2 separate regions of the Homo sapiens genome follow, and region 1 is linked to region 2. Evidence: fine-mapped expression QTL. A gene starts in region 2. The other region holds a variant in brackets. All regions are shown on one strand. Distances are between the middles of the regions.

The links.
Region 1: its variant is fine-mapped to the expression of BTBD9 in stomach (GTEx, PIP 0.98).

The regions. Positions count from the first base shown.
Region 1 is chr6:38,172,531-38,183,148 of GRCh38, forward strand. It overlaps BTBD9 (BTB domain containing 9), which reads right to left. Exons shown (of 11, transcript NM_001099272.2): 11 at 1-2,652. The coding sequence ends at 2,455. LOC124901315 (a long non-coding RNA gene) reads left to right here and starts at 2,648. Exons shown (of 2, transcript XR_007059571.1): 1 at 2,648-3,547; 2 at 4,786-10,618. The variant G/A (reference allele first, on the strand shown) is at 4,865.
Region 2 is chr6:38,634,426-38,645,634 of GRCh38, forward strand. BTBD9 (BTB domain containing 9) reads right to left here and starts at 5,504. Exons shown (of 11, transcript NM_001099272.2): 1 at 5,375-5,504. LOC105375044 (a long non-coding RNA gene) reads left to right here and starts at 5,970. Exons shown (of 3, transcript XR_926767.4): 1 at 5,970-6,059. RefSeq lists a silencer at 5,167-5,366 and enhancers at 5,466-5,966, 5,767-5,846.

The DNA of each region.
Region 1 (10,618 bases), 460 kb before region 2:
TGGGAAAGGAGGTGAACCCGTGTCCTTTTGGAGTCCAGGGCAGGCTCCCAGCAAAGCGAGGGGGAGGCGAGCTGGCAGCGCGGCTGTGAGGGAATGAGACTTTGCCATCAGTCCTCACCAATGACATCTACTGTTAGTGCCACCCCATCGTCCCCATACTTCTCTTTATCTGATGATAAGGGGCATCTTTAAAGTGCTAGAAGACAGGAGGGACAGAGATCTGGAAGGGCATGCCCCGAAGGAAAGAACCGCCACAGGCCAGGGAGCTGCAGATGTGGGTCTAGGGCCGAGGCTTTGCAGCGTATTCCTTTTCAGATGCGAGGCCGAGCTGCCAAGCTGCTATCTCGTTCCCGGAGCACAGGAGGGCTCTGCGTGCTCTGTGGGCAGGGGACTGGAGGGTTGCAGATGCAGGGCCGGGCAGCTCCTCCAGCACCCCCACCAGCCCACCCTCTCTTCCCAAGGTCAGCAGCATGCTGCTTCAGGCCAAGGGCCTCTGGGCAGGTGATGCCCATGTTTAAAAAGAAGCATGTGAATGGCTCATTTCAAAATGTTTGAACTCTGCCCTTGATATGACTGTCTGGCTCCTTTGTCCCCATCTGGGTAGAAAACACACTGGGGAAGGAAGTGCTGTGTGTGCAGGAGCTCTCTGGCTAATTGGCAACCCGGGGCTGGGGGCTGACAGAGTCAGCAACCATGCTGGAGGGCCCCCCACTGTGAGCGGGCGCCCACCGTTCCTTACAGGAGCCTCCTCCCATTATGAAATGCCTGGCATCCCAGGAGTGTTCCACTCTCCCACACAACAGGGAAGTGGCAGAGATCAGAGCTGAGGGGATAGGAAGCAGCTCAGCCCTGCAGCTGGAGCTACCGGGGAGGATGGAGAGCTGCAGACCCTGGCTTCTCCTCAGGAACGTGTCCACCCTGCCCCGGTAGCCCTCTGATGTCTGCCATCCTGTGTTCACACGGAAAGACAGTCTTCCAATTTAATCACGCAGTTTGATGCTACCCTACTATTTCCATATGGACAAATCACTCAAAATCAAGTTAAACTAGGAGGAAGCGGCTGACCCGTTGGCTCTTTCTAGAGCGCAGCTGATATGTCTTTGACACACCTGAAAGGAAACTCCCACGCCCTCACCCTCCTTTGATCAGGGTTGCAGGTTGGCGCCGAAGACCCAAGGACTGCAGTGCTGCTCACGTGCCATGCCGTCCTGGGGAGACTCCCAGGCTGATGCTGATGGCGACAGAGGCCGGAGCTCTGGGGACAGCGGAGGGGCAGGCAATGTTGTGCGCAGTTACCCAGGGCAGGCAGCACTGGAATGGAAATCACTAAGTAGGAGACGGAGCCACATCAAGCCACCATCGTCAAATGAGGTCCTTTTGATGAGGATTAGGAGAAAAGCTTCTTGGAACTGCTATTTTTCAGTCCCCAGTTGAGTACTGTGGTGTGGGGGAAGCACGGAGTCCCAGTTCTGCGTTCCTGACGCTGATGGGCAGGTGGCTGCCTCTCCAATGCTTCGATAAACACAACTGGAGGGGCAGCTAAGCCACGGCAGTCCCCGGCAGGTTTGGCCACGCCAGAACTCGGTATATGTTTATCTACATGGACTTCGGAACAGTGAATTAGCAGCGGGCATAGTAACTATTTCCTTGTCAGCCTCCCAAGCTTAAAGGCTGGATCCATGTCAGGAATGACAGGTGAGTAACTCAGCCACACGAGTGACTATTAACTCCAGTGTCCACAGGTTGATTTGCTTGTGTGCATTTGTGGCACTTCCTCTGTGGCCCAAGTGCCAGGATGAGCTGCATCCGTGTCTCATTTAGGAGACATGCACGATGGGTCTCTGTCCCCGCAAGCTGAACCGTTCAAAACCAAGGAAGGAAAATTATAGCATCAAAAGGGATTAAAACTAGTGATTTGCTGTTTGAGCATTTCAAATAGATCCGGAACACCTATGATTCACTGAGTGGAGAATAACTAAAACAAATAAAAAATCATTTAGTTGCCAGGGCAATGTATTCCAGCAGAATGAACACTCTATGGAGGCCCATTCCTAAAGGGTGCCTCCAGGTAGCAAAGGCCCAATGGCTTTCTCCTCCGCCTGAGTGTTTGCGTGCCATTTTTGTATTCCAACACAGGCCTGTCTATGACTTCCTCCTGTTCCCTGCGCCTGGGCTAGATTAGAGAGGTAGGGTGTTAATGGTGGACTTGATGAAGATTGAAGACCCATTTTCTCCCCCTTGAGACCTGCCTGATTTGGATAAATTGAGAAGAACAAAGCAGCCCCTTTCTGTCCTTGGGAGAAAACCTGTTCGGTGTCTGCTTTTGCAGCTAGGTCGGCTCCTCCCTGGAAAGGGGCAGAGGTGGGGGCAGTCAACAGAGACCCCTGCTCAGGGAGGAGACCGTTTCCTGCCGTTGCCCGAGCCCACCAAGTCACACCAGGCCCGCTGCCTCCTTTATTGGTGCTGCCGGTTGGGGGAGCGTGAGTTGGAGCCTGGGCTGGAGGGTAGTGAGCTGCCACTAGGCGCCCGCAGCGCATGGGAGTCGAGCTGCTGACCGGCCAGGCTGGTGTCCCCTGTCCCCGATTCCTCACTATTTTCCTCCTTCTGGCTGCTCTGCTGCTCTGGACACTCAAAGTGGACACAGTGGAACACCTGGGAGAGAAAAGGAAAAGACCCCATGAGTGAAGGGTCAGCATGCGGCCCTGGAGTTGCCGCAAGTTGGGATACTGCCCTGCCCAGCTTTGGGGGCCACCACGAGGGAGTTAGAGGAGGTCCTTCCCACTGCCCACGCCTGCCCCGGCGCAGACACCTGATGGCAACTAGCATGCTGTAAACACATTTTGATCAGTCAAGAGGAAAGGAAATGAGCCAGTGGCCCAAAAGTTAGAGACACCATGACACGGATTCCCACAAAATCTTCACACTGGATTACTCCGTTTTTGCCAACCTTTGTCTAATGGGCTCTTTTTTCTTTTTTAATTAATTTTTGTATTTGGCAGTTGGGTTAAAAGTCAACAGGAGTTGACTGGTGGTGGTGGTGGTGGTGGTTCGATTCTGTGAGGTTGTGGAAAGCAGGTCCACAGATAACGTCCACCATCTGTGTGGCATCTGCGTGGGTTGTCTCTGGGTATTCTGGTTTTCTCCCGCGTCCCAAAGCTGTGCACTTGAGGTTCATTGGTGTGTCTGCAGGGTCCCAGTCTGAGTGCATGTGAATGTGTGTGAGCGTGCCCTGCAATGGCATGGTGTCCTGTCCTGAGCTGGTTCCTGATGCATAGTTCTCCTGGCCCTGCAATGGTTGAGCACAGACCCTGCTAAGCAGCCGTGCTGGGGAGTGGACTTCAACCTCATGTGGCTCCAGCCAGCCTGGAACAAACGCCCCCAATGTGTAGAAGCCAGCCACCTGGCCGACAGTCACCCTCTAGGAGCTAAGAAGAGTTTGCATACCTGACAGCAGGTCAGCCTGGAAGCACCATGAACTCTGTGCCAACACCGTGCCAGCACTGTGCAGACAGGGCACAGCACCGAGCTCAGCGCCCCGCAAGCAAGGGTAAGCCATGGCCCTGACCTGGAGAGTAGACAACGTGCTTCGGGGGGTCCTGACATGCATGTGTGAGCTGTGGGGTGCAGGAGAGAAGGGCGGGGTGGGGGCTGTCGTTGCCACTGCACGAGCATGTGTGCACATACATACACACGGCCTTCTACCGTAGAATCAAGTTCACAGAGACAAATGTAGTATCAACTGCAGAATTATATTGAAAATATAAATTCCACGCTTACCTCCCTGCATCACTGTTTTTTCCATATTCCCACTTCAATTCATTTATTGACCACTGTTTTAAATTTCACATTTTCTCATATGAAGACTGAGACCGTGTCTTCCTGGTGTGTCCACTCTGTTTTGGGAGCTGCCATTTTCTCTTAGAGGGAGCTGATTTCTCTCCTTATAGGGCAGGGGCTCAGGCACGGTCCTCGCCTCCTGCAGACCCCTCACTGCCTCACGGCTGAAGCTGTCCCCACTTAGCCTATGTCTCCCTCCTTTTCCTTTCTTTCCTTCCTTCCTTTTTTATAAAATCTCCTTCTGTGGGTCCATCTGCAGGGCTTACCAGTCAACAACTGGAGGGGCTAGGTCCTAGGGGAAGGCCTTATGTGGAGATCTGAACACTATTTGGGCCATCAGCTCTGCCCTGGGCTAGGCCAGGGGAATCTGAGAATCATCCTCTAGGTGACAACCATTAATCCACTCCTTCATCAGCTTCACAATCTTGCAGCTCTTCAGTAACAACACCGCCCTGGGCATGTCGGCCACTCATGGGTCACTTGCCTTATAAGTGTTCCTTCTTCCACACCCAGGGATAGGTGAGGTCAGGCTCTGCGGGGCCAGGACACGCCTTGAGAGTGCAGTCCCGGTCCTCAACACCCCCCCCACTAAAGCTTCTCATAACCCAGCAAATACGCCTTCTCTTTTGCAGTATGACCCAGAGCCATATTCTGTTCCCACGCCCACACGCAGGACTTTTCAGGACAGGCTGTGTTTTACTGCTCCTTCCCCCTGCTGACACAGGAGCTCTTTATCCGGCCCCACCATGTTCTTTAATTGGTTATTTGTGTAATCCCTGCTCTCCCTGCTCGGTCAATATCTCCGGAGGCCGCTCCCCAGAGCCTCAGGCTGACACTAATCCTGGAATTGACTTACGTTTGTCCTACTCCTTATTACCTTTTCTCAAGCTCACTCCTCTGGTATTGAATGGTTTTTCTCTCCTTTTGCTCTTGCAACGTTCTCTACAGTCCTGTTAATTTCCAGGCCAGCTCTTCCCCCACCGGCCCCGCAAGCCTTCAGGGTGCCTCCCGCTCCGTGGCCCACCCC[G/A]CTGCCTGCCTCCTTCTACTGATCTGTCAGCTCCGATCTGACTCAAGGACCAAGGCTTAGTCGTCCTTCTACCTGCTCGGGTTCTTGCACAAGAATAAACAAATCGATAAAAACCCTGGATTGAGAGATAAAGTTAAAAAAGACCTCAGAGTGGCCTGGTGCTGCGGCTTGCTCTTCACAGCCGGCCTCTCACTGGAGGAGGGATCAGGGCGGGTCTCTGCTCCGCACTGCGCTGGTAAGAGCCTGGGAAGAGATGCTGTCTGTGGTGAGCACGTGATAGACATTCCACGACCCGACCTGTCGGTGCCCTGGTTCTCATTGTTTCTTCTCATTTCCAGCTGCATTTATCTCTTGTCTAACTTGGGCAGTGTTAAGGGCACAACTGTGTTTAGCCCATTAGCCAATTTGTTTTCAGATAATAATGCAAATGGCTGTTACTCCCAACACACCTAACAAGACTGACAGCCAATCTCAACTGCTTCTGTGTTTTCCTATGGATATTTCTTCTAAAGAACTCCTAACTATCTCTCTCCCTGATGCCACAGAGCTCACGGCAGGCCCTGCCATCAAGTTAGGGGACCCTGGAAGCCCCTGGAAGCCCTAGGCCGTAACTGCCTGACTGAGCTCCCTGTGGCTCTGCAAGGAACTGGGGCCATCTCAGAGCTGCGTCCCAGTCTGTGGCCCCAGAATCCCAACTAAATGAAGTGCAGTCTCCCTGAGCATCTCCACCAAGCCACGCAGGTGCTGCCAGATTCAAAGGCAATACACAGGCAGGAGTGAGTTACCTGTATTAAATCACAAACTGTGTGGCGAAGATTCTAAGTGGAAAAGAGTGTTTTTACAAATGGATAGGCGGGTGAAGACACAGAACCTGCCATGGGTGGGGGTGGGCAAGCTACAGGTGACAGGTGGGGAGGGAACAGCCTCTGCACACCAACAGAGACAGGATGAACATCACATATGCAGCAGACACGGCCAGAGGATGACGCTGCACACGTGAGCAGGGTCAGGAGGTACACACGTACCACAAGCATGAAGCACCTCCTACGTGCCTGACTGGGCGAGGTCCCAGCTGCCCTCAGAGGGTGTACGGTCCAGTGAGGCCAGCAGACACATAAGCCAGGGAGAAGGAGCCCCAGGGCATAGAGGAGTGGGACCCAGCCAGGCAGGCGGTCAGGGAAGGCTTCCTGGGGGAGGAGACATCTGAGGTGAGTCTGGAAGGAAGAGGCAGCCAAGCTAGAGAGGATGGAGGAGGGGGGGACTTGGTGTGGAAGAAAAACAGGAAGAACTACACAGGTTCTCAAGCCAAAGGGTGGCAACAGAGCAAGGAGGGCCTGGGAGCAGCAGGGTGTGGGGGGGAGGGGTGGGGCAGAGGCCACACCCAATGGGACAGGGCGAGGGCCTGGCCTTAAGCTGGGCAGGGATCCTGATACTCTTGGACAAAGGAGGCTATTTATTTATTTATTTATTTATTTATGAGACAGAGTCTCGCTCTGTCGCCAGGCTGGGGTGCAGGGGGGCTATCTCAGCTCACTGCAACCTCCGCCTCCCAGGTTCAAGCGATTCTCCTGCCTCAGCCTCCTAAGTAGCTGAGACTACAGGCACGTGCCACCACACCCAGCTAATTTTTGTGTTTTTAGTAGAGATGGGGTTTCACCATGTTGGCCAGGATGGTCTTGATCTCTTGACCTCATGATCCGCCCACCTCAGCCTCCCAAAGAGCTGGGATTACAGGCGTGAGCTACCATGCCCAGCCTACGAGACTCTTTAAAAACTAATATTTCTTAAACTAAAAAAGTTATTTAAAAAGGAATATACATTTGTGGTGACAAATTCAAATAACAAGTATTTTAAAAATCTAGATGACAACAAACCTTTAAACCTTGGAATCCCCTGATTTAGCAATTTGGAATCAATAGGCAGGAGTCATTTTCAAATCAAGAAAGATCAGAATTTGGTAACAGACTGGATGAGACTGATAAAGGAGAGCGCCCACAATGACTCTCAGGGTTCCCTGGAAGGGACGGGGGCGGGCATACTGCGGTGCTACAGAAGGTGGCAGCAGCAGGTCCCAGGGCTCCAGTTACAGCAGCTCAGACCTGCACTCATGCCAAGGACTCTCACAGACCCTTTCCCTGCAATGATTTCACTGAGTGCAGACTCCAGCAGGTGCGCCCACAGCGCAGCTCCTGCCCTCAGGACCTCTCAGGCAGTTGGGGGCAGAGGCACCTCTGTGCAGGGGCCTGTGTTCACTCTTCTGCAAATGGCGAGTGGCAGGCTGGGAATGAACCTCAGGGCTGTGCCTTCCTTAAGCCTGGACTGTTCCACTGTATCAACATACCTGCCTCACACAAACAATTCTACCAGCACGGGATCAGTAATATTTCATACATCAGAGGTGTGTGAGAAACTAATTTTGCCTGGAAGAGGGGTCAGGGCAGGCTACAGAGAGGAAGGTGTGCACAGGTGAGGCCTTGAGGGGTTGGGAGGCAGGGAGGGGAGCTGCTTTCCAGGCAAAGGGAACGAGGAGAAGATTTCCACATAAAGATCTGGGCCTTGGCACCTCACTCCTGGCAGCCTGTCTGTAATTCACTCTGGTCACCCCTCTGTGGAGCAGTGTGCCTGCCTCAGTCATCTCTGTTGATGATTTAAGCCTAGCAGCCTTCAGCCAAATGTGGCAACTGTGTAAGCCAATACCCAGCTAGCTCCTGGACCACTCGGATGCCCATCAACATGTACGAGGCTGGGGTTACTTCTCCTGGGATCCCAGAAATCCTCAGATTTGCACGCAATGCAAATGGGCATTCGGGGGGGCCTGTGGGTGGTCCCGATTCTGTTCTTGGGAGCGGGAGTGAAAAGCAAGCCTGTCGTGGGGAAACTGGCACCTTCACTGGTGGCCACGCTGCTGGGGCTGGGCGTGAAGCTGCCTCCGGCCCTTGGAGAGGAGTGTGAGGGAAGGGAGGCGGCAGTGCTTTTTATACACAGGAGCTGGAGGAGGGTGATGGCAGCTTGGAGGAAGTCATCACTGCCATGGTAGGGGGGAAATCTGGAAATATTGGGCATGTGGCCCTCCCCTTCCCACCGTAACCCCAAGCTCCTCAGCCCACTTCTTTCCACCAGGCACCTTTGGGCTTCCCTCTAGGTGGAACAGCCAAGTCCTGAGTCTCTTTGCTCAGAAGCTCAAGTGATTCAATTTCTTTTCTCCAAACTTTCCCAAGACTGCAATACCTCTTGGAAAGGACGTGACCAAATGTGGCTGAGACACACTGGGCAGAGCCGCACTACTCATTTATGCAAAACCATTACTCTGGCCGCCGCATCAGTCTCCCTTCCCCTTTTCAGCAATCATGTATCCCATTAGCCTGTTTGATTGCCGCTGCTCACAAAGGGGCGCCTTCGCTGAACCGTCTTCAATGGCCTCTGGATCTCTCCCCTGAGAGAAGCCGGCTAATTTGGAATGTGGTCGTGTGTATGAATCCGACACAGCCTCAGTCACAATCGGGTGTCCTTTTCTGTAGCTGCTGTTTATGATCACTTTGCCTTGCCTCTCTGGGAGCCATAATTCACCACATACTGGAGATAGGCTGGGTGTTCTTTTCCCCGTGAATCCTGGACAGGATGTACACAAATGTGCTAGCCCCTTCTTGGTGACCAGGCTAATTCCTCAGTGGCTTGGTGGCTGCTGCCTCTCATTAGAGGGATTCCCTAAGCACTATTTGCTTGACAAATTTTCAAGGTTTTTAAAAGCAGAAGCCTTTGCTAATTTTCCCAAGTTGGCCTAAGAGTCCACTGTGAACTGCAGCAGAAATTGGGGAAATTTAATAAATGTTGATCAATGACTCTGCCTTGCTTTCCTGGTTCCTCCTGAATAATTTCCACAGACTGCTTTCATGCCAACCAATACAAATAGGATTTCTGATCCAAGTTTTCAACTTACAAATACAAGTTGACAAATCTTTATAAAATAGATATCTACCTCTTGATGTCTGTCCATAAGTCAGATGCAAAGCCATGACTTCTAACTTACACTCCCCTAAAGATCCCCTATTTCCCTTTCACAGTGGCTGATGTGGTGGCATCACACACCCACCCAGCGTTCAGTGACATAACAGATCCTGACGATGGTCACCATTAACATCTCTCTTATGCTCGCCTCAGAGCAGAAGGTAACAGTCCATCTACAGACTGCAGAGATGTTTTGTTTTTGTTCTTTAAAAATGAAGACGAGTGCCTCCAACAAAATATCCCTTTTGATAAACCTTGGTTTTTTATGTGCATCTGAACAGCCCAACACATTGTTTTCAGTTAGGGGCCGGGCATGGTGGCTCACACCTTATAATCACAGCACTTTGGGAGGCTGAGAGAGGCGGATCACTTGAGGTCAAGAGTTCGAGACCAGCCCGGCCGACGTGTCAAAACCTGGTCTCTACTAAAAATACAAAAATTAGCCAGGTGTGGTGGCAGATGCCTGTAATCCCAGCTGCTCGGGAGGCTAAGACAGGAGAATTGCTTGAACGTGGGAGGCGGAAGTTGCAGTGAGCCGAGATCGCGCCACTGCACTCCAGCCGGGAGACAGAGCGAGACTCTGTCTCAAAGACAAACAAACAAACAAACACAACAAAAAACAAAACTAGGAATTACTTCATAGGGAGACATTTCCAAATTGCGAGCAACAAATTTTCAGTATTGCTTAGGGTGATAGGATACCCAAATATTTTTGCACTAAGTATGGAGGTAAGTTTCTGGGTGACAATGCTTATGTACGGCAACAGCTTTTAAAAAAACTTTACAATATCATTTTCTCATATTCACATAGGCCAGGATATCCACAGATAATTGGAACTCTGATGCTTGGAAGGTTCTGGAAGAAGAGGCTTTCCAATCCCTATCACCCCAGGCAGCCCTGGAATTCCTGCCCTGTTTTTTATGTGTGTACACTCCAGAGTTCCAGGGAGAGAGTTACTTTCTTGTCTTAATGGATTCGGCTATAGAGTGGTAGAGGTATCTTTTAGTTATTTTTTTGAAAAACTAAGAAACAAAAAAAGGGAAGTGTTCTTGTTCGCAGGCTTCTGGGATGCCTGAATCTCCCCACCTGATAGATGTGGCCTCACCAGGGCCCCCTTCCCACACCAGACAGGCACCAAGAGAGCCTAGCCATGGCCCTGCTCTCCCCACAGGGCTGGCCCATGTGTCTCCAGCTGCCTGGGCGGTTCTTCACTTTGTGTGACCAGGCTCCGCATGTACCTTCTGTCTCAAAGGGCTCCAGCTGCGTCGAGGCTTCCAGCATCACCCCTCACTGCTGGCACAGCAATGGGACACATCTGAGGGGACCCTCACAAGCTGCTGTCTCCATGCGTCTCACTGCTGGGAGGCTCCTGGGTACTCATCTGCCCAGGTCTGGGGTCACTTTCTCCCAGGCCAGTTGAGGATGGAGAATTATTGTTGCTCCAATATGACAGGTCTAAGGATTGTGCAGTGTCTGAAACAACCATATGTGCTCAATGTTGTCCTGCTTTTCCTCTCTTTTTTTCCAATAAAATCTTTCATAACAAACATTTAAATATAAAGAAGCCCACAAAAGGTCTTCTTTTTTTTTTTTTTCTGAGACAGAGTCTTGCTCTGTCGCCCAGGCTGGAGTGCAGTGGCACGATCTCGGCTCACTGCAAGCTCCGCCTCCCGGGTTCATGCCATTCTCCTGCCTCAGCCTCCTGAGTAGCTGGGACTACAGGCGCCCGCCACCACACCTGGCTAATT
Region 2 (11,209 bases):
TTCACCCATCTTATCTGTAAACTTCCCAGGAACAGGGAATATATTATTTGCTTCCCTTTTAAGACTCAATGTGCCTAATACAGGACACAGACTGGAATCCTGGCACATATTATTAAAAATTATTTTGCAAACTGGATTGTTCCTTTTTTTTAAAAAAAAAGGGGGGGGAGAGGGCATCTAACACAAAGTCAAATGCACATAGCTACACACCAGATATATGAAAGAAATTTTCTGTAGTTATTTTGTGTGTGTGTAAAATTAGAAATCATATCCTCCCCATGACTCATCAGAGATAAAAGAGGATAAATGAAATCTGTGTGTGAGGTACATGCCATCATGCACCAGGACAGTATTAAGCAGCTTCAAAGGTTATTGCTATGTATCAGGCATTATAATAGATTCTGGAGAAAACAAAAATAAGAATGAGATAAGCTCTACGAAATTGGAAATCAGACTGGTAGACCTAGAGAGTCTGGAGGCTGTTAAAATTCTTATTCTTCTCTAAACTATCTCCTGGTTCTCCATACACTTCAACCACTTTGTTAGTGCTGGTTCCTTTTCTTTCATCTATCCTCTAACAGCACCATCAGCATCACCTGGGAACTTGTTCAAAAATGCAATTTTTCAAGCCCCAGTCCACACCTACTTAATCAGAAACTATGGGGGTGGGACCCAGAAATCTGTGCTTTACCAAAGCCTCCAGCTATTTCTTTTTTTTTTTCTTTTTTGAGATGGAGTCTCGCTCTGTCACCTAGGCCGGAGTGCAGTGGCCTAATCTCGGCTCACTGCAATGTCCACCTCCTGGGTTCAAGCGATTCTCTTGCCTTAACCTCCTGAGTAGCTGGGATTACAGGTGTGCACCACCCCACCCAGCTAATTTTTATATTTTTAGTAGAGATAGGGTTTCACCATGTTGGCCAGGCTAGTCTCAAACTCCTGACCTCAAGTGATCCACCCACCTCAGCCTCCCAAAGTGCTGGAGTTACAGGCATGAGCCACCACACCTGGCCACCTCCAGGTCTACCCAATGCATTTTCAAATTTTAGAACTACTATGGTTTGCATGTGTCCTCCATGTGTTAGAGGAGACATGATTCCCCAATGCAACAGCAGTGAGTGGTGGGATCTTTAGTGATTAGGCCATGAAGACTCTTTTCTCATGAATGAATTAATGCCAGTAGAGTGGGAATAGGTTGACATGATCAGTTCAGCCCCCTTCCCTCTCTCTCTCACCCATGTGATGCCTTCTGCCATGTTATGACACAGCAAGAAGGCCCTCACCAGATACTGGCACATTGATCTGGGACTTCCTAGCCTCCAGAACTATCAGGAAATAAATTTCTGTTCTTTATAAATTAACCAGACTGTTCTTTATAAATTAAACTTAGATCAGTTCTTGTCTTAGTTTGTTTTGTGCTGCCATTATGAAACATAAAATATGAAATAGCAGCACAAAACAAAGACAAGAACTGATCCAAGTTTAAATACTGATTTAAACGTCCAAAAGTTCCATTCACCATCTTTTCCAGTTCTCACTCTCCATTTTTCTGGCATTGGGGCCTCTCCTACTATCTCTACATCTATAACTACTACTAACAATAACAGCAACAGCTGCCATTTATTATATTAAGCATCTATAAGACAGGCATTGTGTTAATCACTGTGCACATAGTACCTTTGTGTTAATCACTGTGCACATGTATAATCTCCACAATTCTTTAATTCAGATAAGAAGCCTAGGCTTAGAGAAGTTAAATAACTTGCCAAAGGTCAGCCAACCAATAAACAGCATAACAGAGATTTGACCTGCCATCTTCCTAACTCCAAAGTCCACTAAGTTAACTACTATACTAACATGCCTCCTAGAAGGTTGCTACTCCCACAGCCTCAGCGGACATCTATATTACAATTGTCCCTAACCATCTCATAAACTCTGAAGTAGCATTTCCAGTTACTTAGTGGATCTCTCTTTTTAAACTCCCCACAGAAACCTCAGAATTAACACTGCCATTATTTCTTCTCTCCACTTCAAACCTGTTCCTCTTCCTGTGATTTCTAACTTAATGTCATCATAAGCAAACAGTTGCTCAAACTAGACATATTATCTTTGACTTCTCACTCTCCCTTACCTCTAGCTGGTCATAAATGTAGAGATTTTAACATCTAAAAATGTCTCCAAAATCTATCCATTCCCATTGTCCAACATTTCTCACCTACACTCTAGTCTCCCTGCCTCTCTACTCTAATGCAATCTGCACACGAACTGTCAACTTTCTGATTATTCTACCTTCTATGGCTCTCCACTGCCAATGGATGGGAGGAGTCTAGACTTTTTAGGATGAAGTGGAAGACCCCCTCATAATTTGGCTCCAAAAACAGCTTCCTGCCTCATCACTTCCCCCATGCAATAAGAAGTGATTAGGCCCTCATGAATGGATGAATGCCATTATAGCAGGAATGGGTTCATTATCTCAGGAATGGGTTCTTGAGATGAGTTCAGCCCTCTCCCCTCTCTTGCCCACAAGAAACAACTCAAGATATTTCCAAAAGCGCTATTTAATTTTAATATTCAGCAACTTTGCTTATGCTGGCCCCTGGAATGCTCTCTTCCACCTCTACATGTGGCGAAATTTTATTTAACCCTCAGAGCTAAGCTCCATCCCCTTCTTCTCAACATGTTCCCTATCAGTTTTTTCTCCAGCCAAAGCACTCTACTCCCCCAGCACATTATTCATTCCAAAAGTGATTAATTTGTCACAGCACATAATGGTTAGTGGTTTATCTCTTCTGATGAACACTTAGTATGCTGAGCATATACTGTGTCTTAACTTCTTTGTCTTCCCAGCACCCAACGAAGTGTCTCGCCATAGCCAGCACCCAGTAAGTATCTGCTGAGTTGTTAAATAATGCAACATTTGCAGTTGTAACTTTACACATCTTGGTTAGCAATTCAACTTCAGGTTTACATACCACTCAAAAGAATTTTCACATAACAGAAGATGTTATAAATAAAGACCAAGGGTTCAATATTCAGCAGCAGGGTCTTTAATTATTCTGAAATCTCTTTGGTCAGTATTTTTAAGCATCGTTCATCAGAAAGACTCCTTTCCCAACTAACATTTGTATATTTTACAGGATCAGCAGTAAAGACAAACCTCAGAGAGATAATCCCAAGCAAAACTATGTCACTGAGTGTGACTGGATGACTATTGGTACATCATTTCAGTAAATTTCCAATACAATGGCCCAAGTACATCAGGTAGATTTTAGATAATGAGACATGCACCACTGACTACCTAAAATACATGCACATTAGTGAGGCATCGATTCCAATTAGTAATTGAAATCAAAAGTATATTAACAACCTGATATTGGTTCAAGCGTAATATCCTTTACTTTCAAGTAAGGATAACACTTATTCTTGTCAAAGACTGTACTCTGATTAATACAACCTCTATCCCACCTTACAAGAAGGCTGTATCTTGTTAACAGTGGGATGCTGATAAGCCCGCCTTAATCCTTAACACTTTGCCTTCCCAACCTGCTAAGCCATCTCTCTCCAGTATTCCCCTATAAGAGACGTTCCGCTCCAGTTACCAGACATAAAAGTCGTCTTGGTATATCCTCCAACAACCAAATTCACATTATTATTTTCTCAGCTCCTGGTTTATTTCCTAACAAATTTTAACTTCTTTCAGAGACCAAGTCAAATCTTGCCTCTTTCAAAGAGTTCCCTAACTCAGCCTACACATCCTATCTTTTCTGATTTTCTACCACATTTATAGTCCTCAAACAGCACTGGTTACCTGCTACTTAACTTGGTTTTATAATTATTTTATACATCTCCTAGCTAGACTACTGCTCTCAAAGGGAAAAAAAAGACAGGTCTTCTATGTCATTTTTCACTCCATAATCCTCCTCCCACACCTATCATGATACTGGGCAGAGGGAGGCACATGTATTAAGTACTTGATGGACTGAACTCAATGCTTTCTATACATAGATACACCACTTGAGCATAGTGTGCTATATAACAAATATCCATTGCATGCCTACTCTGTGGCAAGCACATTTTTCCTATGTGTTAGACATAGGGCAAGGAGGAAAACACAGATGACTCCTGTCCTAAAAGCTATTACAGTGGAGGGAGGAAGACACTTTGAATTCCGAGTAATCTAATAAGTGTTACAAAGCAAGGTTATTACTGGTTCCAAGAGGTAACATACTTTACAGATTCTCAGTTATGAAACAGAATCATAGAATTTTAGACCTAAATGAGAACCTTGAACTTATTTTCCTCTATCCTCTTACACAAAACATTAGATTTCAGTACAGCCTATCTTTTCACTGGTTCTACAAATTGCCTTAATCAACAGAAAGAAAAGACTGGCTTCTTCCCTGTCTCCAATATTCCTCGCTCCCAAGTATGGTAACCACAACCCCTATACATCTACCCATGATAGAGTCCAGAGCACTGAGAAGACAGCACAGGGCTGAGGATGAGCTACACCTTTACATGCTGGGTTCTCCCATCATCAACACTTTCCGCCCACACAGTGAACAGAATCCGTATTTTCTGCCCAGAAAATAGCAGCCTGTACTGCCTTTAGGAAAAACAAACAAAACATGCTTCCATACTTCCTTGGATCTACTAATGACAAAAGCACAACACGGTTCTGGGAAATATAGCAAGATAACTAAGTCTATGAGGAAGTAAGAAATGAGGATGCCTATCAGCACCTTGGTCTCAAAATCTGTAACAACAATGTACTAAAACGCCAAGGAAACACATGCACATACATGTGAAGTTAGAAACTCTAGGCAACAGGTTGGCTGCCCCGGATCTATACTGACAGGTCGCCCTCCCAAGGTCGTGGGTGTGTCTGATGCCGCACGCAGGCACTGATTCACAACTCTCTCCATAACAACCAGCTCCTACTCAGAGGCTGGCCAGGGCAGGGGAGATGAGGGCCCCAGCAGTCCCAAACTTTCCAAACCCCCACCCCGGGGTCCCGGGTTTCGCCTCCTCAGTCCCAGGCAACGTCGTCTCAGACAGGATACGAGACTGCTAGGGAACCTGGGCTGCCCCTGATTCGAACTCCTCTCTTTGGGAGGCTGGTAGAGCCACCCCGAATCCCCGAAACGTCTACTTCCCACTACACCTTCGTGGACTGCGAACGGGACGGCTACCGCTCTCCCAGAGCACCCGGGCCCAAGAAATGACCCTCGTCAGGCCCCGTCCCAGCTCCTCCCCCGCCCCCGGAAAAAGCGGCGGAGGGGCGGGGGGCGGTGCGCGCGGATACGGCGGGGGCGCGCGTCCCCGCGCCGCAGGTGCGGCCAGGCCCCACCTCCCCTGCAAGGACCCGGCTACTCACCCCAGCGATGCTCCTCTGAGACCAAGCTGCGACACAGACGCCTCTTCCGCCCGCTCCGCACCCCTCTCTGCGCCACCGCCCCCTTGGCCGCTTCCGTGGCCGCCGTCCTCGCCGCCGCCCCGGCTGCTGCGGCGCGCGTCCGCTTTCACGCACTCCGCCGTGGCCGCGCACGCGCCACTGCGCGCTGGCGTCACTTAGCAACCGATCGACAGCGGGCTGCTGGGTCCGGCGATGCAGGCCCAGAAAGTCGCCTAAGGCAGCTTCCGCGGCTTTTTCGCATCGGCCCGACCCTCTGCCCCTCCAGAACAGGGGGCCCCAGGGTGTGGCTGCCCTGCCGGCACCTGGCTCCGGGTAAGTCGAGTCACCACACGTCACTGTATGGCGTCACCGGCGCACGTCACTACGGATGAGAAGGTCCTGGGCGCCTGTGGAGTGACCTCGTCCAGACCGCCGCAGACCCGATCGGCAAGTTCTTGGAGGTGCAGGAAGGTTCTCCAAGGAGTAGGACCAGAAAGGGATGAGAGCGCGAGCGCGGTTAATGTCGAGGCTGCTAAGTGATGCTCGTTAATTTCGCAGCAGGGTGTGACTGGCCCAGCCTTGACTCTCAGTTTCCTCTCTCAGTAAATGGGCATAATAATACCGGTCCAGCCTACGCTGGAGAATTGTGAGGTGAAAATGAAATAAGGTATGCAAAGGTACTTTGTAAGTATAAAGCCCATTTGACTTGGTGGCTCAAGCCTGTAATCCCAGCACTTTGGGAGGCCGAGGTGGGCGGATCGCTTGAGCTCAGGAGTTCGACACCAGCCTGGGTAACATAGTGAAACCCCGTCTCTACAAAAAAGACAAAAACTAAATGGGCATGTTGGCGCGCGCCTGTAGTCACAAATGCTCGGGGGGCTGAGGTGGGAGGATCGCTTGAACCTGGGGAGTTCAAGATTGCAGTGAACCGTGATCGCGCCGCTGCACTCCAGCCTCTGCAGTGAGAGCAAGACACTGTCTCAAAAAAATGTATTTATCTATCTACATAGATAAGAGTCCTAGAAATCCGGGTGCAGGTCTGACTGTAGCTGGTGTAGGAAAGTCAGTTATCCCCGACGCTGGAGCAAGCTAGGGGACCGCCCTTGCAGTTGTTGGAGGAGACAAATTGGGAAGGACTTAATTCCGGGCAAAGGAAGCTTCATGAGTAAAAGTAGAAAGTGAAAATGGTCAGGAAAAGCAAGGCTTGGGGCAGGGAGACCCATTTTTAGGCCATTGCAGTACTCCAGACAAGTGATAAGAACATTAAACAAGGCATTGGCAGTGGGAATAGAGGAGGGGATAGATGTTAGCGCCATTAAGGTGGTAGAATTCACAGCACTGAGTGCGGATAAATGAGTAGGCCAGGTTTCTAGCATGAGTGCTGAGGTAGACAGTGGTAACATTTAGCAAGATGGCAAGCTACATGAGTCTTGATTATCCACAAGTGTCTAAGTTACTATTATAGATAGTGATGGTGACATTTCTTAGGAGGATGACCAGATATGTGGAGTATGATGATGAGTTCAAATATGGATATGTTTGTTAGGGAAACATTTACTCTCCATTCACAATGTCTTTCTTCCATATGGAATGATATCCATTAGTGTAATACTCTCCTGGTTTCTCTTATACCTGTCTGCAACTCACTCTTGCCTAGAGGAGTGACTTCCTGATTGGTGAACTTAAATGGGAGAAACTGGACATGTGGCATCTATCCCATTCTTTTTCTCTTAAAAGATAACTATCTTCAGGGAACTGTCCTGGTGTTCTTTTCCGTTTCTTCTGGAGCAGGGCCTGTGGGTAGGGACAAGGGTGCCTAGTCCAGGGCTACAAAGAGAGTATATGTATTTAATTCCAGAGTTTGGCATTAGGAAGCTGTCTGTCCACAGATAATATTTAATACCAGCTTTGTCAGCTGTGTTACACAGAATAATGATCCCCCCCAACCAAAAAAAAAAGGATGACCACACCCTAATACTCAGAACCCATGAATATGTTATATTATGTGGCAAAAGGGACTTTGCAGATATGATTAAATGATGTATCTAGGGAGATTATCCTGGATTGTCTGACTGGGCTGGAGGCAGGAGGGTCAGAGTCAGAGAAGGAGATGTGATGATGGAAGCAGAGGTCAGACAGAGATTTGAAGATGCTATACTGTTGGCTTTGAAGATGGACCCAAGAAACGCAAGCAAATTGTAGATGCGGGAGAAGGCAAGGAAATGGATTCTTCTCTAGCACCCTAAGAACACAGCCCTGCCAACACCTTGATTTTAGGACTTCTGACTTCTAGAACTGCGAGATAAGAAACTTGTATGTTTTAAGGTACCAAGTTTGTGCTAACTTGTTACAACAGCAATAGGAAACTGATACAGTCAGTAATAAAGATAATAGTTGGTTTCCTGCAGCTTTCTCCATTACCTGGAAAAGAAGGGTACAATTCAGTAGGTCCCCTCAGAGACTATAGCAATATGACTGTGACCTGATGGAACCTCCACATCTAGAGAAAAATGTCCAATAAACACTCAAACTGTACAGGTCTATGAATGAGGAAAGAGGTTGAGTTAAAATAGATTTGGAAGAAATAAATTAATAATTGGTAATTTAAGCCCGAGGCATGGATGAGATCAATCAGGGAGAAAATACAGAAGACATAATAAGGAGAGGCAAGGATAGGGCCCCTGGAGAGCACTAACTTTAAAAGGAGGTGCAGATGATCAGAAGCCCAAAAAGAAGTCTGAGGAAGAATGGCCAGAGAGAGAAAAGGAGAACTAGGTGAGCCTAATGCCTCTGAAGCCAAGCAAGCAAGATGGAGAGGGGTCAACAGAGTCAGAGACCACAAAAAGGCCAAGTATATCAAGAACTGGAAAGCATTCACTGGATTTAGCAACAGAAAAGTGATTGGTAACCAACAATAGCAAACTTCAGTGGGATAGTGGAGATAGATACCAAATCACTGAGATCTGAAAGGCAGATCAATATAGTGGATTGGCCTCTAGACTAGTTTGATGGGAGTTTTGAGATTCTAGTCTTGATTCTGGCCATTAACTAGCTAGATAACTTTGAACAAATCCCTCAACTACTCCAGGCTTTGGTTTTCGCATCTGGCAAAGGATGAGATCAAGCTGAGTCTATGATTTTCTCATTAATTCCTAGATAATCCCCCCAGTTTTATTTTTTTATTTTTTGTCATATCTGATTCAATACTTTTATTTATTTTTATTTTTTATTTTTGAGACAGCATCTTGCTCTGTTGCCCAGTGTGGAGTGCAGTGGTACAATCTTGGCTCACTGCAGCCTCAACCCCCGGGCTCAATCACCCCAATTTCATATCAGACTCACTTGCTTATAACAGCACACTTCAAATCCTTCTCAGACCATTTTCCAACCACTAAGAATCAGTATATTTCATGCCAGCTTCTGTCCTAGATACTATGGCTATAACACAGTTTTCAAGGAACTCACAATTTGGAGAGAGAGAGAGAAATACTAAGTATGTAACTAGCTGTCATAGTTCTTTAAAAAAAAAAAAAGAAAAAAAAGTAAGGCCAGGCGCGGTGGCTTATGCCTGTAATCCTAGCACTTTGGGAGGCCGAGGCGGGTAGATCACCTGAGGTCAAGAGTTTGAGATCAGCCTGACCAATATGATGAAAACCCGTCTCTACTGAAAATACAAAAATTAGCCGGGCATGGTGGCATATGCCATCATCCCAGCTACTCAGGAGGCTGAGACAGGAGAATCACTTGAATCCGGGAGGCAGAGGTTGTGTAGAGCCAAGATCTCGCCATTGGACTCCAGCCTGGGCAACAAGAGCAAAACTCTGTCTCAAAAAAAAAATTAAAATAAGTAAATAAATAAAAATAAAAAATAATAAGATAGACCTGATTGTGGTGGCTCATGCCCCGTAATCCCAGTGCTTTGGAAGGCCAAAATGGGAAGATCACCTGAGGCCAGGAGTTTGAGACCAGCCTGGGCAATATAGCCAGACACCCATCTCTACAAAAATTTTCTAAAAATTAGCCAGGTGTGGTGGTGCGCACCTGCAGTTCTAACTACTTGGGAGGCTGAGGCAAGAGGATTGGGTGAGCCCAGGAGTTTGAGGTTACAGTGAGCTATTACCAGATTACAGTGAGCTATGACTGTGCCAGTGCACTTCAGCCTGGGCAACAGAGCAAGACCCTAAAAGCTAGATATAAATATATTGTAAGTATAATACAATATACTATAACAGAATCTGTATGAAGTGAAATGAGGGATATATAAAGTGATACAGATAAGGGCGCAGTTAGCTCTATCTAATGGAAGTCAAGAGTGTTGTACTTACCTACACTGTTAAGTAAACACAGTATGCCTCAAAAATGGACACAAATATATTAAGGCATTTCCATGGAGGTAAAAAAAGAACAGGAGAATTGTGCTAAACCAGCGTTGTCACCTAACATTCCTTCTAGGTAGTTTTGTTGTGATCTAAATGAATATTTATATATAACTGTTTCTAAACTAAAATTGGTTAGTTGTTAAAATGGACACAAATAAAAGTTAAATGCAAGAATAATTTATATTTTTCCAGTAGATTCAAGAGGAAATATTTTTTGTCACTAATGCCATGCTTTAATACATTTGCTTGTCTAATCCTCATGTATTATCTTACTTAATTTTGTAAACATTAGCTTATTGTATAGATCACTGACAAAGTATCTGTTTTAGCAGATAGGGACAAAGTTTAAATAATTTGGCCAAGGTCATAGTAGACCAAGATTTGGACCCAGCACAAGCATCCTCTTTCCAGGAAACCTTCCCTCAGGCCCTTAGTTGGTTTAAGTGCCCTCTCTCTGTACTATTAGCATATGCACACACATTCATTTTAGCGTTGACTTTAATAATAAGGATGTTTACCATGTACCAGATACATAGTACTTGCACCTATGTTATCTATGTTTAAGTGTTTTGTAGGCATTAGTTCATTTAAGCCTCATAACTGCCCTTTGAAGTAGGTGATATTATTCACAATATTTTATAAAACAGGAAGCCAAGGCATAGAAAGTTAAGTAATTACTCAAGGTACAATTAATAAGTGATAAAGCTAGGATTCGAATCCATGCTTTTAACCCCCCAGGCTTCATACTATGTACCCTTTCCCTTATACTGAGGAATTCTAGAAGGCATAGTTGACAGGTTGTTGTGTGTGATATCACTCTGTGTTCCTCATATGAACACAAGAGAATTTTCTCTCTGAGCCACAAGTCATGAAATATTTGGCTACCCTTGAGTAACTGATGTGTTTTCTCTTTATAGGCAATGTGAATTATATAACTGCCTGTTTTTCACTTTTCACTTTGCCAAGAAGCTCTGAGTAAATTTGTTGGCTCAGCGTTTGTAAGTGGGTGAATTGGCCTGCATATCTGTATTCTGTTGCTTTGAAATTTTTAAAAATAAATAGTTGAGAGAAAAATAATGTAAATTTTCTTTATTTTCCAAATTGTTGACAATGTACAATGATAATTTTTATAATTAGAAAAATAAACTTTGTTCTTAAAAGAACGTTTGAAGCTTCAAATGATTTCTCATGCTTTGACTCTGTGAATAAGAGCTGGTTTCAGGTTAAGTTGCATGAGTTAAATATAGAATCCAGGTTCATATAAAACCAAGACTTCTGTATGACCTGGAAAGTCCAGATCAATAGAATTGTTCAGACGGATCAAAAAGTATTTTAGGTAGCATAAAATAGTTGTAGCCCTTCTTGTTTTTAACTTATGTTTAAGTAATTTGAAACCACTTTTAGGTTATTTGGACACATGCTCCCTCGCTTTAGAAAT